3 separate regions of the Homo sapiens genome follow, and all the other regions are linked to region 1. Evidence: fine-mapped expression QTL. A gene starts in region 1. Each other region holds a variant in brackets. All regions are shown on one strand. Distances are from middle to middle.

What was found. PIP is the estimated chance that this variant, and not a neighbour inherited with it, causes the effect.
Region 2: its variant is the best candidate, but not a certain one, in a credible set for the expression of SLC35F2 in aorta (GTEx, PIP 0.80).
Region 3: its variant is the best candidate, but not a certain one, in a credible set for the expression of SLC35F2 in fibroblasts (GENCORD, PIP 0.51).

Annotation. Positions count from the first base shown.
Region 1 is chr11:107,856,331-107,861,558 of GRCh38, reverse strand. It overlaps SLC35F2 (solute carrier family 35 member F2), which reads left to right and starts at 2,772. Exons shown (of 8, transcript NM_017515.5): 1 at 2,772-2,901. The coding sequence starts at 2,792. It overlaps LOC124902746 (a long non-coding RNA gene), which reads right to left and starts at 2,329. Exons shown (of 2, transcript XR_007062876.1): 1 at 1,905-2,329; 2 at 570-1,813. RefSeq lists a silencer at 2,647-2,956 and an enhancer at 3,177-3,246.
Region 2 is chr11:107,804,236-107,809,463 of GRCh38, reverse strand. It overlaps SLC35F2 (solute carrier family 35 member F2), which reads left to right. Exons shown (of 8, transcript NM_017515.5): 4 at 2,588-2,747; 5 at 3,949-4,105; 6 at 4,694-4,746. Among named protein-coding and RNA genes, the nearest start is that of SLC35F2, 52 kb to the left of the region's middle. The variant G/A (reference allele first, on the strand shown) is at 2,251.
Region 3 is chr11:107,828,196-107,833,423 of GRCh38, reverse strand. All of the region lies in intron 1 of SLC35F2 (solute carrier family 35 member F2), which reads left to right. Among named protein-coding and RNA genes, the nearest start is that of SLC35F2, 28 kb to the left of the region's middle. RefSeq lists enhancers at 1-115, 116-661, 662-1,207. The variant G/TTG (reference allele first, on the strand shown) is at 2,841.

The sequences.
Region 1 (5,228 bases):
TTTTTTGGGGGGTGTGTGTGTGTGTCTGTGTGTGTGTTTTAAAAGACTGTCTCACTATGTAGCCCCAGGCTGGTCTGAAACTCCTGAGCTCAAACAATCCTCCTGCCTCAGCCTCCTGAAGTGTTGGGATTACAGGTGTGAGCTACTGTGCCTGGCCCCCCACCCTCTTTTAAAGTTACTGGTGTTGACGTGTATCTTCTATTTTTCTTCATACTCACATAATCAAACATAGTAGTCCTCCCTTATGTTTCAAGACCCCCGGTGGGTGTCTGAAACTGCAGAGAGTATTTAGCCCTATACAGTATATACTTTTTTCCTACACATACCTATAATAAAATTTAATTTATAAAATTGGCACAGTAAGAAATTAACAACTCATAATAAAATAGAACAATTATAACAATATACTGTAATAAAAGTTATGTGAATGTGGTCTCTCTCTCAAAATATCTTACTATACTCTAGTCACCTATTTTCAGAGGGTAATTGGCTGTGGTAACTAAAACCGTGGAAATCAAAACCTCAGGTAAGGAGGTGACTACTGTATATATTGCAAATAAAAAATCAAATTTGGTTAAGGAGAGACTTTATTTGTAGGGATTATTGCAAATGGGGATGGGTGGGGACTGTGGGGAAGGGTTCCTGCAGTAGGAGGGGGCCTATTCCCTACTGGTGGGAAGTGGAATGAAAAGGTGGCTCTCCACTGGATAATAGATTAGAGAATGTTTCACCCTGAGGCCAACTTCTCAGGAGGGGCTATTAAGGAGGGGTTACCTGCGGCTCAGGGTCAGGGTGGGTGAAAGTTCAGAGGTATGAGGGAGGAAGAGAAATTCAACCAAAATCTTTGATTAAAAAAAAAAAGGTGGGAGGCTTCTTTTCTTTTCTCTTTCTTTCTTTCTCTCTTTCTCTCTTTCTTTCTTTTTTTTTTGAGACAGTCTTACTCTGTTGCCCAGGCTGAAGTGCAGTGGCACGATTTTGGCTCACTGCAACCTCTGCCTCCCGGGTTCAAGTGGTTCTCCTGCCTTAGCCTCCCAAGTAGCTGGGATTACAGGCACACACCAAAACGCCGGGCTAATTTTTGTAGTTTTAGTAGAGACGGGATTTCGCCATGTTGGTCAGGCTGGTCTCGAACTCCTGACCTCAGGAGTAATCCGCCCGCTTCGGTCTCCCAAAGCACTGGGATTACAGGCGTCAGCCACCGCGCCCGGCCTAGGAAGGTTTCTTAATTGTCATTACTTTCCAGGAGCACAGGGCTCAGGTAGAATTCAACGTTGTCAATATGCAGGGTTAAATGAGTTGTTTACTTTACAAAAGTGACATCTTAAATGTGCTTCTAATGTCCTCTTGTTTCATAATATGCTTGTATTATAATACTTAATTAGTCTCTACGGATGACCACGTTCTTAGTTTCAAAGGTTTTTTTGAGGTTCCTGCAGCTGCTAAACTTGGGGTTCCTGAAGTAATATTTCATTTTCGAAAGCTGTTTTTTTTCTTAGACTCCTCTTACAGAATTGCCAGCTCGTCTGCACAGCCTGTCTATTTGAACCTACGTTTATTTTGACCCACCCCAACCCCCAAAGCAGGTGGCCAGGAAAAAATAAAAGGTCCCAACACCTTTTCTTTTGTTTTCTGGATCTCCTCCTTTCCGGAAGCAGGGGGTCAGTGACAGGAACTTTTCGACCCCAGCTTAGTGTCTCTTAATCCCTCTTTAGCCCGTGGAAGCCTCGGAAGGCGTGGCCAGGGCAGGGCATCCAAGCCGAGCGCCGGGGGTTGGCACCGTCTCTCTCCCTGGCACGGCGGAGACAACTGAATACTGAAAGACAAAACCAACACACCGCGAGGAATGAGCCACGCCTCCATCCACGCCACAAAGGCACGTTTCCAAGATCTTTTTAGGATCTTACCCATGTTTTGCAGGGAAAAGCGACACAGACCTGAAGCGCCTTCAGGTTTTTTTTTTTTTTTTTTTTTTTTTTAAGACGACGTCTCCCTCTGTTGCCCAGGCTGGAGTGCAAAGGCGCGATCTTGGCTCACAACCGCCGCCTCCTGGGTTCAAGCGATTCTCCTGCCTCAGCCTCTCGAGTAGCTGGGACTACAGGCACCCGTCACCACGCCCGGCTAATTTTTGTATTTTTAGTAGAGACGGGGTTTCACCATATTTCCCAGTCTGGTCTCGAACTCCTGACCTCAGGTGATCCACCCGTCTCGGCCTCCCAAAGCGTTGGGATTACAGGTGTGAGCCAACGCGCCCTGCCAGCCTTCAGTTATTTTAATGAAGCGATTTTGTACAAATCAGCCAGAGGGAGGGAGAGTGGGAGGGAAGAGGAGGGGTCAGCCAGTCCTTCCAGTTAGGAGAGTCCCGGCTCACTCACTGCTTCTAACTCACTGCTCACTCACCGCTTCTTAGCTTAGGAATCACCTACAATAACCTCGTGTCACTGTATCTTGTGATTTCAAACAAGGAACCCTAAAAACCTGAAGGCACACTGGGTGCCGCTCAACAATAAGGCTCGGCTGCCAAGACGAAAAAAAAATTGCCCTTTCTCCTCCTGCCACCCTGGAGGTGCCAGGTTGTAATCTGCAAATGTATTGTCTGGCCCTTAGGGCTTGACAGTTAATGATTGGTCGCTGAAGGAGCCGAGCGGAGGAGCGAGAGGGACGCGAGCAAGCGAGCGAGGGAGGGAGCGCAGGGCCAGAGCGGAGCCCCAGCCGGCCGCACAGGCACCGCCTCCCGTCTTCCGGGACCCGGCACTTCGGGGGTTTTGGGCGCCGGAGACGCGCAAGGGCGCCGATGGAGGCAGACTCGCCAGCGGGCCCCGGCGCCCCAGAGCCCCTCGCGGAGGGAGCGGCGGCCGAGTTCTCCAGCCTGCTGCGCAGGATAAAAGGCAAACTCTTCACCTGGTGAGTGGAAGGGGCGTGCTGCAGCTCCGCTGGGGCGTGGGGGCGGCTGCGGGCCCTGCGCGCACGTGGACAAGGAGCACACTCTCTGAGGCCCCCAGCAGGGAGGCAGAGGTGGCGGCCGCACGGACTTCGGTTCGGGGCTCAACACGCACACCAGGTATGGTGCGCTTCACCTGGCGTCGGGAAGCACTTGGTGCGTCTCCCTCGGCTCCCGTTTCGAAATCGTGGCGATGTATTTTGGAGGATTTGGGGGGAAACCCACCCTGTGGCACTATTAGGTCGGTCCTCTGGGGCGTTCCGCGGTGGAGGGACGAGGTCCCCGGGGATGCTGTGAAGGAGGAGTGCCCACCTCGGGCTGGGCAGGTGGGTGAGCGCCACTTCCTGGCGCCGGCGCCCTCATTCCATCTGCTGCCGAGCCAGCCAGACTGGGCGCGGTGATTCAAGAGTTGACCGAAGTGAGAAATCCTGGTTAAGTTTTGTGCTGCTGCCGGGTGGGAGACCAGAGCCGGCTCTCTCTTCCTGGGCCTGAGCGAGGTGATATAGCCACCCCCAGGGCTGGGGTCCAGGGAAGCCTGTTTGTGGTATCACTATGCTCTGTGCGAAGTAGGGACAAATGTTTTTAAGGAGTGGGCAGCGACTCTAGAAAGCGTTTCTGTGGTTGCTGGAGGACTTGCACTCTGGAAATGAGAGAACCCAGGACCTAAATAGTGAAAGACATTTATTGGGCACTCGCTCTGTGTCAGGTACTGTGCATAACAATTTATATGGATAATATCAGCTAATCCTCACCACTTTAGGAGATGGTACTATTGTTATATCCACTTTGCCGCTGGAGAAACAAAGAAGGCTAAGCAATTTGCCCAAGGCCACAAGATGATCTTTAAGGGGTGATGCGTTCAAGCCGTAGTCTAAACAGCGTTGGCCACTGACAACTCATGAAACAGATATTTGATTTTTTTTTCATATTAACAAAGCGAATTTCCCTTTAACGATTGTGAAAGATAGTCCTGAAAAGCCATACCATTTTAAAAACGAGATCGATAAAGGTGTAAGCATTTTTTATCATATAAATAGTTTGAAATTGATGCATGTGTTTAAAGGGGAAAGTTGGCCGAAAACCACCTTGTAGCATCCAGTTGTGTATGTCCTGATACATTTGTTAAAAGTTCTCAGCTGGGAGGCAATTCAGTGTAATGGCTAAGGGCACTCACATTCTGGACTCAAATCCTGGCTGGGTGACCTTGGACAAGTCAGTTCTCTGTGCTCCAGTTCCCTCCCTTCCCTCCCTCTCTCCCTCTCTCCTTCCTTCCTTCCCTCTCTCTCCTTCCTTCCTTCCTTCCCTCTCTCCTTCCTTCGTTCCCTCTCTCCTTCCTTCCGTCCTTCCTTCCACAAGTCAGTTATCTGTACTCCAGTTCCCTCCCTCCCTCCCTCCCTCCTTCTTTGTTCCTTCCTTCCGTCCGTGTCCGTCCGTCTTGGACAAGTCACTTAACTTCTCTGTGCTCCAGTCTCCCTCCCTCCCTTCCTTCCTCCCTTCCTTCCTCCCTTCCTTCTGCTGGGTGACCTTGGACAAATCAGTTCTCTGTGCTCCAGTTCCCTCCCTCCGCCCCTCCCTTCCTTCCTGCCTTCCTTCCTTCCTGGACAAGTCACTTCTCTGTGCTTCAGTCTCCCTCCCTCCCTTCCTTCTTGGACAAGTCACTTAACTTCTCTGTGCTCCAGTCTCCTTCCCTCTTTTCCCTCCCTCCCTCCCTCCCTTCCTTCCTTCCCTCCCTCCCTTCCTTCCTTCCTGCCTTCCTTCCTTCCTTCCTGGACAAGTCACTTCTCTGTGCTCCGGTCTCCCTCTCTCCCTCCCTCCCTCCCTTCTTGGACAAGTCACTTAACTTCTCTGTGCTCCAGTCTCCCTCCCTCTTTTCTCTCCCTCCCTCCCTCCCTCCTGACGGAGTCTCATTCTGTCACCTTCCTTCCTGACAGAGTCTCATTCTGTCACCCAGGCCTGAGTGCAGAGGCTCTATCTCAGCTAACTGCAACCTCAACCTTTCGGGTTCAAGCGATTATCCTGCCTCAGCCTCCGAAGTAGCTGGGATTACAGATGTATACCACCACGCCAGGCTAATTTTTTCATGCTTTTAGTAGAGATGGGGTTTCCCCATGTTGACCAGGCTGGTCTTGAACTCCTGACCTCAAGTGATGCACCCACCTCCGCCTCCCAAAGTAGTGGGATTACAGGCGTGAGCCACCGCGCCCAGCCTGTGCTCCAGTTTTCTTATTTGTAAAATGGAGATAATAACAGTACCTACCTTGTAGTGCTGTTACAAGGTTACTATGCAGGA
Region 2 (5,228 bases), 52 kb after region 1:
TTTGAGGTGGAGTCTCATTCTGTCACCGAGCTGGAGTGAAGTGGGATAATCTTGGTTCACTGCAGCCTTGGCCTCCTGAGTAGCTGGGATTACAGGCATGCGCCCAGCTGATTTTTTTTTTTTTTTTTTTTTTTGTATTTTGAGTAGATACGAGGTTTTGCCATGTTGGCCAGGCTGGTCTCGAACTCCTGACCTCAAGTGATCCTCCGGCCTTGGCCTCTCATAGTGCTGGGATTACAGGCATGAGCCACCACTCCCGGCCACCAAGAATACATTTTGAAAAGAAGGTTCACATGACTAAAGGTGATAGATATCAGATGAGAAGTCATGGAATGTTAGAGTCGGAGGGAAACTGTGTGATCATTTCGTCTGATCTTTTTATTTTATATTTTGACTTGGAGAGTGACTGGCTGGGGCCACACAGCTAGCTGGTCAGCGTGGGGCCGGGGCCTGAGGTTTCTGGAGCTCTGATCATGACATAGGCATCTCCCTCATTGCCCAACAAAAGTTGTTAAAGATAGAGCAAATTTAAGTTTGATTTTAAGACACAAGGGACTCTTCTGTGGTAGTTCTTAGAATGTCTTTTTCTACTTTTTTTGTTTAAGGAATGTAGTTGAGATTTTGTTAAGCCGTTATGGCTGGATTCTGCTGGTGTCTTCAGGGACAGGGTATTATCATTTGCATCGTTTAATGTTTTGTTATTCAGGCAGGCTCAATAAAGCACTTAGGAGATTAGAGTTCTGCAGCTGGAATAAATAACAAGGCAAGATGCCCATTCCTACACATGATGCGTTGGACTCCACTGATGCTACTGCAGTGAAAGGCAATCAGTAAACAACTGTGGACAGGATCGAATGGGCTGTTGGAGATTTAGGGGCCTGTCTTGTTCAAGACCAAACAGATACAGAGAGAATCAGGGACAAGGTTTGAAACAACAAAAGGGTGAGCAATAAAACAGCAGTTTCGGGAATATTACTGGTATAAGGAATATATTTCTTCCTTGAAAGAAATACATTGGAATGCATCAAGAATCTCTTGAATATATTTTATCCTTGAATGCACATTAAATTTGTGAATTTAAGAATTGAGTGAGTGCACTCTCTTTTTTATCTTTTATCTTGCAAACAATTTTGGACCTGCTGTAATTTTGGCACACTTAATCCCTCTGCCTTCCAGATGAGCAATATCAGGTGTATAGCTAGTGTTTTCTGGACCCAGTATCAACAGGTGAGGGGGAGCATGTGAGGAGGATGAGCAAGAGTATTTGCCATGAGCACGAGTGTGTCTCACATGGTGGGGTTGGACGCTTTGTCAGGGAGATGGTGTCTGTTCTCTCACAGTAACCCATGCTTCTTTGTAGCGCTTAGCCCGATTCCAGTGAAATATCTGGTGGTGTGATTATTTATTCCATGTCCTTTCTAGCTTTGTGTGCTCCTAAGGACACAGCTTGCTCTGTCCTGTTCACCGCTATTCCTAGCTCCTTTCACAGTGTCTCACACATGCAAGGTGTTTAACAAATATTTGTTGACTGAGTAAATGGTTGCAGGTAGGAAGGAATGTTTGTCTACTGAACTTAAAGATATACACAGGGCCAGGCGTGGTGGCTCACGCCTGTAATCCCAGCACTTTGGGAGGCCGAGGCAGACAGATCACCTGACATCAGGAGTTCGAGACCAGCCTTGCCAACATGACAAAACCCCATCTCTACTAAAAGATACAAAAATTAGCTGGGCATGGTGGCAGATGGCTGTAATCCCAGCTCCTTGGGAGGCTGAGGCAGGAAGAATTGCTTAAACCCGAGAGGCAGAGGTTGCAGTGAGCCGAGATTGCACCACTGCGCTCCAGCTTGGGCAACAGAGCGAGACTCCATCTCAAAAAAAAAATAATAATAATAAAATAAAAGAAAAGATATACACAGGTGGGAGCATAGAGGTAAAGTGCACAGGCCCTCAGCAGAATTCTTGTATACAGCAACTGACTCTTCCATTGTATTTTATTATCTATTCATTTATTTTGAGACAGGGTCTCTCTGGGTTGTACAGCCTAGAGTGCAGTGGCACCATCACAGCTCACTGCATCCTTGAACTCCGGGCTCAAGTGATCCTCTCACCTTAGCCTCCCAAGTAGCTGGGACTACAGGAGTGCACCACCACACCCAAGGTTTTTTTTTGTTGTTGTTTTTTTTTTTTTTTGTACAGACAGGGTTTCACCATGTTGCCCAGGCTGATATCGAACTCCTGGACTCAAGCA[G/A]TCTGCCCGCCACAGCCTCCCAAAGTGCTAAGATTACAGGCGTGAGCCACCGTGCCCAGCTGTCATCCCATTTTTAACTATGTGTTTTTGGCAACTCATTTCACCTCTCTGTATCTTCATTTTCTCATGTATAAAATTGGATTGTAATTTCAGTCTCATGGAATTGTGAGGATTAAATGAGTGAATCCAGGTAAAGCTCTTAGTACAGGGCTGGCAATAATAAATGCTCAATAAATACTGACTCCTATTATAAATACTGACTCCTATTATTTCTTAATTACCCATCTTTTAGCTAATGAGAGATATGTTTTAAACTGTTGATTCTCTTTCCATGCAGCTTTTGGATTGCTTTGGGATTCCTGTGTTGATGGCTCTGTCATGGTTTATTCTTCATGCAAGATACAGAGTGATCCACTTCATCGCCGTGGCTGTCTGTCTGTTGGGTGTAGGAACCATGGTTGGTGCAGACATACTAGCAGGGAGGGAAGACAATTCAGGTGAGACGGTGTCACATGTTTGTGCTTCAATCACAGCAAATTTGTTTATGTTTTCACTTTTATATCAACAAAGAAACTTGTTTACTGGAGTATTTCTTTTTAAGTCACTGTGTAGGTGAGAACACTTTGCCACACTTTGTGTTGAATTCAGTTGATAGTATAAAATCTAATTGAGGTCTATGAATTCATCCAATCTTCAAGTGAGTTAAACGTCTCCTTGGATTGAGAGAGAAAATTACAGTTGATACTATAAAATCTAATTAAGGTCCATGAATTCACCCAGTCTACAAGTGAGTTAAGTGTCTCTTTGGATTGAGAGAGAAAATTATAGTTGATAGTATAAAATCTAATTAAGGTCTGTGAATTCACCCAGTCTACAAGTGAGTTAAGTGTCTCTTTGGATTGAGAGGGAAAATTACTTTGAAAGCAGGTTCCCATTTTTCAAATTGACCTACCCCTTCAATGAACTCCATTAATTTGTCATGTCATGGAATCATTTTCTGAGGCCTTACATTATGATATATATCATCAGTTTCTAGCCTGTTAGACTTCTGAGGAGTTAAATTATGAAAAATTACAGCAGAATTGCACCAGAAAGTGAGAAGAGTAAGAGATTTTAAACTTCTAGTAACCAGGTTGGGTGCGGTGGCTCACACCTGTAATCCCAACATTTTGGAAGGCCAAGGTGGGTGGATCACCTGAGGTCAGGAGTTCGAGACCAGCCTGGCCAACATGGTGAAACCTCGGTCTCTACCAAAAATACAAAAATTAGGCCAGGCACAGTCGCTCGCACCTGTAATCCCAGTACTTTGGGAGGCCAAGGTGAGCGGATCACTTGAGGTCAGGAGTTCAAGACCAGTACAAATGCAAAAATTAGCCAGGCATGATGGAGGGTGCCTGTAATCCCAGCCAGTTGGGAGGCTGAGGCAGGAGAATCACTTGAACCCGGAGGTGTAGGTTGCAGTGAGCTGAGATTGCGCCACTGCACTCCAGCCTGAGCAACAGAGCAAGACTGTCTCAAACACACACATACACACACACACATACACACACACACACTCTCACACATAAACTTCTAGTAACCAGTTTCTTCTTCTTTAGTGTCATTTAAATGAACACGAGTCAGATGACCGCCTGGAGGCACGCTGTGGAGGTTCATCTGTTGACAGTGTTTTGCTTTCTGTGGCTTGTCTTCCTGCAGGGAGTGATGTATTGATTGGTGACATCTTGGTCCTTCTTGGGGCTTCCCTCTATGCCATTTCAAATGTTTGTGAGGAATACATCGTGAAGAAGCTGAGCAGACAGGAGTTTTTAGGAATGGTGGGCCTGTTTGGAACAATTATCAGTGGTATACAGCTGTAAGATTCTACAATTTTTTTCTAAAGACAAAATAAGCAAATATATTATAGATGATAACTACTAATATTCATTGTTTATTTGGCCCAAATTCACATTTGGAATTAGTATTAGGTGGATGCAAGAGTAATTGTGGTTTTGCCATTACCTAATAACTTGCTGAGTGTCTACTAGAGGATTGTTAAAACATCAAGAATTACTTCCTATTTTCTTAAACATGTGTGTTGCTTAGGATTCCTGATTACCATGTGGTAGAGGCATTTGCCAGTAAGGAGTTTTTTTAGTTATTTCCAGAAAATATTAACACATTAACTTCCTAAGCTTATTCAAAAACAAAGCATAATATCATATTTTCCTCCTATACTTGACTATTATTTCAGAGCACCTGTAAGGGAGTCAAACATATCTTTATGAACTCCTTTGGTTTTATTCTTTGTCATTTTTATTAAAGATCGTTATTTTTATATTCTAAGACAAATTCAAATGTCCATGTAATTCCTCACTTTAGCTGAAGTATAGTGACTAAAATGCTTATAAAATAGTGAAAATTAGTATGTGGACCTCTCTGTGACCTCTTGTTTTAATCTTAGATTGATTGTGGAATATAAGGATATTGCCAGCATTCATTGGGACTGGAAAATTGGTATGTAAAGAAATAATTCCTTTTAGTCAGCATTCTTTAACAAACAAATGAACATCTAGAAATATGTGCTTTATTTTAATAATATTTAGACGTCTTTGTAAAATCCAGGAGTGATTTAATACATATCAACTATAGTGGTTTACATTGAGTTTTCTCTGAAAATTGGTAGATAAGCTTCCATAAAAGTTAATTCTTAATCTTTACCTGCAGGAATAGCCTTTGGTTACTAGGAATCCTGAACAAGACTGGAGATTGACCTTTGGTCAAACCAGCTTTCAATTAGATCTGTATCTTGGGTCCTCAAACTTCTTGCGAAGGTTGTCTGCTTGATATAATTTGTGAAGCATTAACCTGAATCATCAATGGTGTGAAATCTCCCTCACCTCCCATTGCTCCTGTCATCTGATATTCCTAGGCATCTGCATAAATAAATAAAGGAAAAGAAAATGGTGATGGGACAGTCAGAAAAGATTGGAACCTGG
Region 3 (5,228 bases), 28 kb after region 1:
CCTCAGCCTCCCAAGTAGCTGGGATTACAGGCATGTGCGACCACGCCTGGCTAATTTTGTATTTTTAGTAGAGACAGGGCTTCACCATGTTGGCCAGGATGGTCTTGATCTCTTGAGCTCGTGATCTGCCCACCTCAGCCTCCCAAAGTGCTGGGATTACAGTCGTGAGACACCGCATCCAGCCATTTCAACTCTCTTAGCTTCAGTTTCTTCATCTGCAACCACACAGCATTGGCAAATGGATCAAAAATAAAATAAGATAGGGTATAGAAGAGTTTTTGTAAACTGTGAGACACTATAAAAAACATAGACAAGGTATTCTGATGGCGTCCATTAGCATGAATGTAATAAGTAAATAAATAATACTTGATGATGATGGATGCCCCACTGGCAAGTCCAGGGAGCTTTAAGTCAGCAGTTTGGAAATCTCAAATTGTCAACAGAGGATCACAGACCAGAAGAGGTTGGGAGAGAAACAAAAGATGGAATGTGAGCTGCAAATCCAAATTAGCCACAAGGATTAAACATGAGGAGTTGAGGGGAAGCCTTCCAATGTTATATTTTCTTCTAGTCCCTGTACTTTCCTGACAGAATGTAGATTTTGTTTGTTTGTTTTTGAGACAGGGTCTCACTCTGTCACCCAGGCTGGAGTGCAGTGGCATGATCATGGCTCACTGCAGCCTTGAACTCCCTGGGGTCAGGTGATCCTTTCATCTCAGCCTCCTAAATAGCTGGGACTATAGGTGCATGCCATCATACCCGGCTAATTTTTGCATTTTTTTCTGTAGAGAAGGCATTTGATCATGTTGCCCAGGCTTGTCTTGCACTCTTGGGCTTCAGCAGTCTGCCCACCTTGGCCTCTCAAAGTGCTGGGATTACAGGCATGAGCCACCACACTTGGCTGTAAATAGATTTCTCATTGTTTGAAAACTAGTATGTACAGAATAAAAAGAAAATAACAAAAAATTTCCACAATCCCACCCAAATTATCTGGTTCTTTTAAGGTTTAGTCAATCAGGCAATTTGATCCATCAATCAATTCATCAAGTCATTGACTTCTAAACCCTCCCACTACTATCTTTTGGCTCCAGGCCTTTTCTTGTTCTCGTAGATTCAGAATAGAATAAACCAGTTCCGGGAACTAACAACATTGGGAATGCTCAGAGGTAGAAGCTGTCTTGATTGGAAATATCCTGAGTTACAACTAAAGTGACTGGATATAACCTAGTGGGTTACTTGCTGGATCTAGACCCATACTAAACTTGCTCTGCTCCAAACTTCTGTTGTATTGTTATAGAATACTGCAAAATTAGCTCACCCACCCCATCCTTTAGTCTAAGAAATGCAGTATAACATTTGGTGAAGATCAGCAGAAAAAAAAAATATTTTGCCAATTTCAGAAATGTCCCGCTCCATAAGAAACTATAACTGGTGTTATAATGTATAGGGTAATTTTTGGAAAAGCTTGCTTTATTGCTTCATTAAATAGTGAGACTGTGGTTTTGGCAAAACCTTATGAACATATTTCTAGAGTAGTAGATAAGAAGGCTGACACCTGAACCTCTTGATTCCTGTTCTTTGCCAGAATTTTCCAGTTCTCTTTGTCTGGAACATCATGATCAGTTCATTTGGTAGTGACCAGTCTCTGGAGAAAGTAGCTCTTGCTGTTCAAACTTACACTTACACTTGAAAAGAAAGGTGGTAGTTTTTAATGAGAATTGTCACTGCTAACTTTGACAGATGGTCACAAGACAACCATCTCAAAAGAAAAACCTACCTGGGAAATATAGGATTAATGTTGCTTGGTGTATCTAGAACAAGGGCAAAGAAATTACATGTCCCCCCACTTCACGAAGATAATTTTGTATCTGCCTTGCAACCAGATAAGATTGTCTTGTTGGTTGGGTGTGGTGGTGCACGTCTATAATCCCAGTGCTTTGGGAGGTCTAGGCATGAGGATCGCCTGAGGCCGGGAGTTTGAGACCAGCCTGGGCAACATAGTGAGTGAGGCCTTGTCTCTACCAAAATTTTAAAAATTAGCTGGGTGTAGTGGCATGTGCCTGTAGTCCCAGCTATGTGGTAGGCTGAGATGGGAGCAAATACTATCACCCTGTCCCATTCCAATGAGTTTTGCAACTTATTTTACACTTTTATTTTTAAGTTGAATGCTTCCTGATAATCACATTTGGGTTGACACATTTCCAAGTTAAACTGTAGATTGATTTCTTCTTGTAATCCATTTGTTCCTACTTGTTCCAGTTGAACTAACAGAGGTTTCAGAAAGGTCAGCTTTCTCCGGTGGCATTTTTTACCTTTGCAGCAATTGTGCCAGCCCGTATTGATTCATATCCTGGATAAACAAAGAGGAATATGACACTGTTTCTGTCTTTTAGGAGCTTGTGACCTACCTGGGTAGCCATATACATAGTAAGTAGAATACAGTGTGAGACATTTTATATTAGATCAGCAATCTTCAGGTTTTTCTTCCATTATGAACCCCTTTTATTATTATTTTTTGCCAGGAATCTTATGTTTTGAAAGATTTTGACACCCTTTCCCCAATACTCATTTGTTAAGTAATAATGAGTTTATTTTTTTCTCTCTCTCTTTTAACTAATCAGACACCTGAACTTCTGATTAGCAAGAGAAAATGATTGTTACCACACTTGGTTGATATAATTAGAGCTGAAGGCAAATACATGTGATGTTTTGGCTTGTCTGAACAGCCTTGGCATGGGTACATGTAGGGTTTCTGTTGGCTTAAAAAAAATTTTATGGGAACATTCAAATAAAAGTAGAGGCTGTTCTCTTTTTTTTTCTTTTCTTTTTTTTTTTTTTTT[G/TTG]AGACTGAGTCTTGCTCTGTCTCCCAGGTTGGAGTGCAGTGGCGTGATCTCGGCTCACTGCAAGCTCCGCCTCCCAGGTTCACGCCATTCTCCTGCCTCAGCCTCCTGAGTAGCTGGGACTACAGGCATCCACCACCATGCCCAGCTAATTTTTGTGTTTTTAGTAGAGATGGGGTTTCACCATGTTGGCCAGGATGTTCTCGATCTCTTGACCTCGTGATCTGCCCGCCTCGGCCTCCCACAGTGCTGAGATTACAGGCGTGAGCCACTGTGCCCAGCCAACAGTATTTTCTTCTTAGGATAATGTTTTTAAATGCATAAATATTAAAAATTATAATGGAAACCAATTGCAAAGATTTAGTTGTCAAATTATTAAAAAGCAAATTGGGATATATGTTAATATAGAGGCTTCTTTTCTTTAAAATTTACTAAGTAACAAAATATCACAATGAGTTTTTAATTACAATTTTTTTTTTTTAACTTTTATAGAGATGAGGTCTTGCTATTTTGCCCAGGCTGGTCTCCAACTTGTGGCCTTAGGTGATCCTCCCGCCTTGGCCTTCCCAACGTGCTAGGATTACAAGTGTGAGCCAGCATGCCTGGTTTACCATGATTTTGGAGTAGTGATGAATATAAATTTTATTTGAAATTTTAGCTATAGTAGCCATACGAAGTGAAAATATCTGTGAATTCTTTTGGCAGCAAAGTCTTAGGTCTTGCTAGCACCACTATAGTTTGTTGCCTATGTTTATAATTGAAGGGATTGTTAAATTTTAGTTCAATGTTACTGAAAATGAGGATATATATATTTTTTTCTACTGAAGTTCATAGACCCTAGAATATTTTCATGGACCTGGTCCATGTGCCCCAGGTTAAAAACTCTGTAGTCTTTTTTTTTTTTTTTTTGTGAGATTTCATAGGTATTATGTACTACCATCAAGAGGTGTCTTAATTTGTTTTTTGTTGCTATAAAAATATGCAAGACTGGTAATTTATACAGAAAAGAAGTTTATTTCATATAGCTCTAAAGGCTGGGAAGTCCAAAGATTGAGCAGCTGCATCTGTTTGGCTTCTGGTGAGGGCCTCATACTGTGTCATAGCATGGTGGAAGGCATCACAGGGCGAGAAGGGTGCACTGGGAGTCAAACAAGTTTTTTTTTTTTTTGAGATGTAGTCTCACTCTGTCACCCAGACTGTAGTGCGGTGGCACGATCTCTGTTCACTGCAGCCTCTGCCTCCTGTGTTCAAATGATTCTCCTGCTTCAGCCTCCCAAGTAGCTGGGATCACAGGCACCTGCCACCATGCCTGGCTAATTTTTGTACTTTTAGTAGAGATGGGGTTTCACCATGTTGACCAGGCTGGTCTCGAACTCCTGACCTCAGGTGATTGGCCCACCTCAGCCTTCCAAAGTGCTGAGATTACAGGTGTGAGCTTTTTTTTTTTTTCTTTTTTTTTTTTCCTACTGACCTCCTGCTCCAAGACAGTCTCACTCTGTCGCCCAGGCTGGAGTGCAGTGGCGTGATCTTGGCTCACTGCAGCCTCCTCCTGCCAGGTTCAAGCAATTCTCCTGCCTCAGCCTCCTGAGTGGCTGGGACTACAGGCGTGCACCACCACTCCTGGCTAATTTTTTGTATTTTTAGTAGAGACAGGGTTTCACCATGTTGGCCAGGCTGGTCTCGAACTTCTGGCCTCAAGTGATCTGCCCACCTCGGCCTCCCAAAGTGCTGGGATTACAGGCATGAGTCACTGCGCCCGGCCGGGATTAAGTTTCAGCATGAGTTTTAGAAAGGGCAGATATTCAAATCATAGCAGGAGACATATAATTTTTTCTTGTCTCTTTCTTTTTTGTTGTTAGGAGCTATTGATGTTTTGTCTAGATCCATTATTTTATTAGGGCTCCTAAAGTGATATTTTATTTGTCATCCCATCTTAATTCATTATACAGACTATTTCCACAAGGACAAACTCCTTTTCATCAACTCTTTGATTACCCTGAGGTATAATTTGTATAAGAAGGGCAGGATAAACATTAATTCATTTCTTTTATTCACTAGTCTTCAAAATAGTAAGTTCATTCCCTAGCACCCTCCAAAGAAGACCAGCAAGTTAAAAAAAATTTTTAGTATTGCTATTTTTTTTTTTTTTTTTTGAGATGGAGTTTCGGTCTTTAAGGTAGGCTGGAGTGCAGTGGTGCGATCTCAGTTCACTGCAACCTCCGCCTTCCGGTTTCAAGCGATTCTCCTGCCTCAGCCTCCTGAGTAGCTGGGATTACAGGCTCCCGCCACTGGCACAGCTAATTTTTGTATTTTTAATAGAGACGTGGTTTCACCATGTTGGCCAGGCTGGTCTTGAACTTCTGACCTCGTGATCCACCTGCCTCAGCCTCC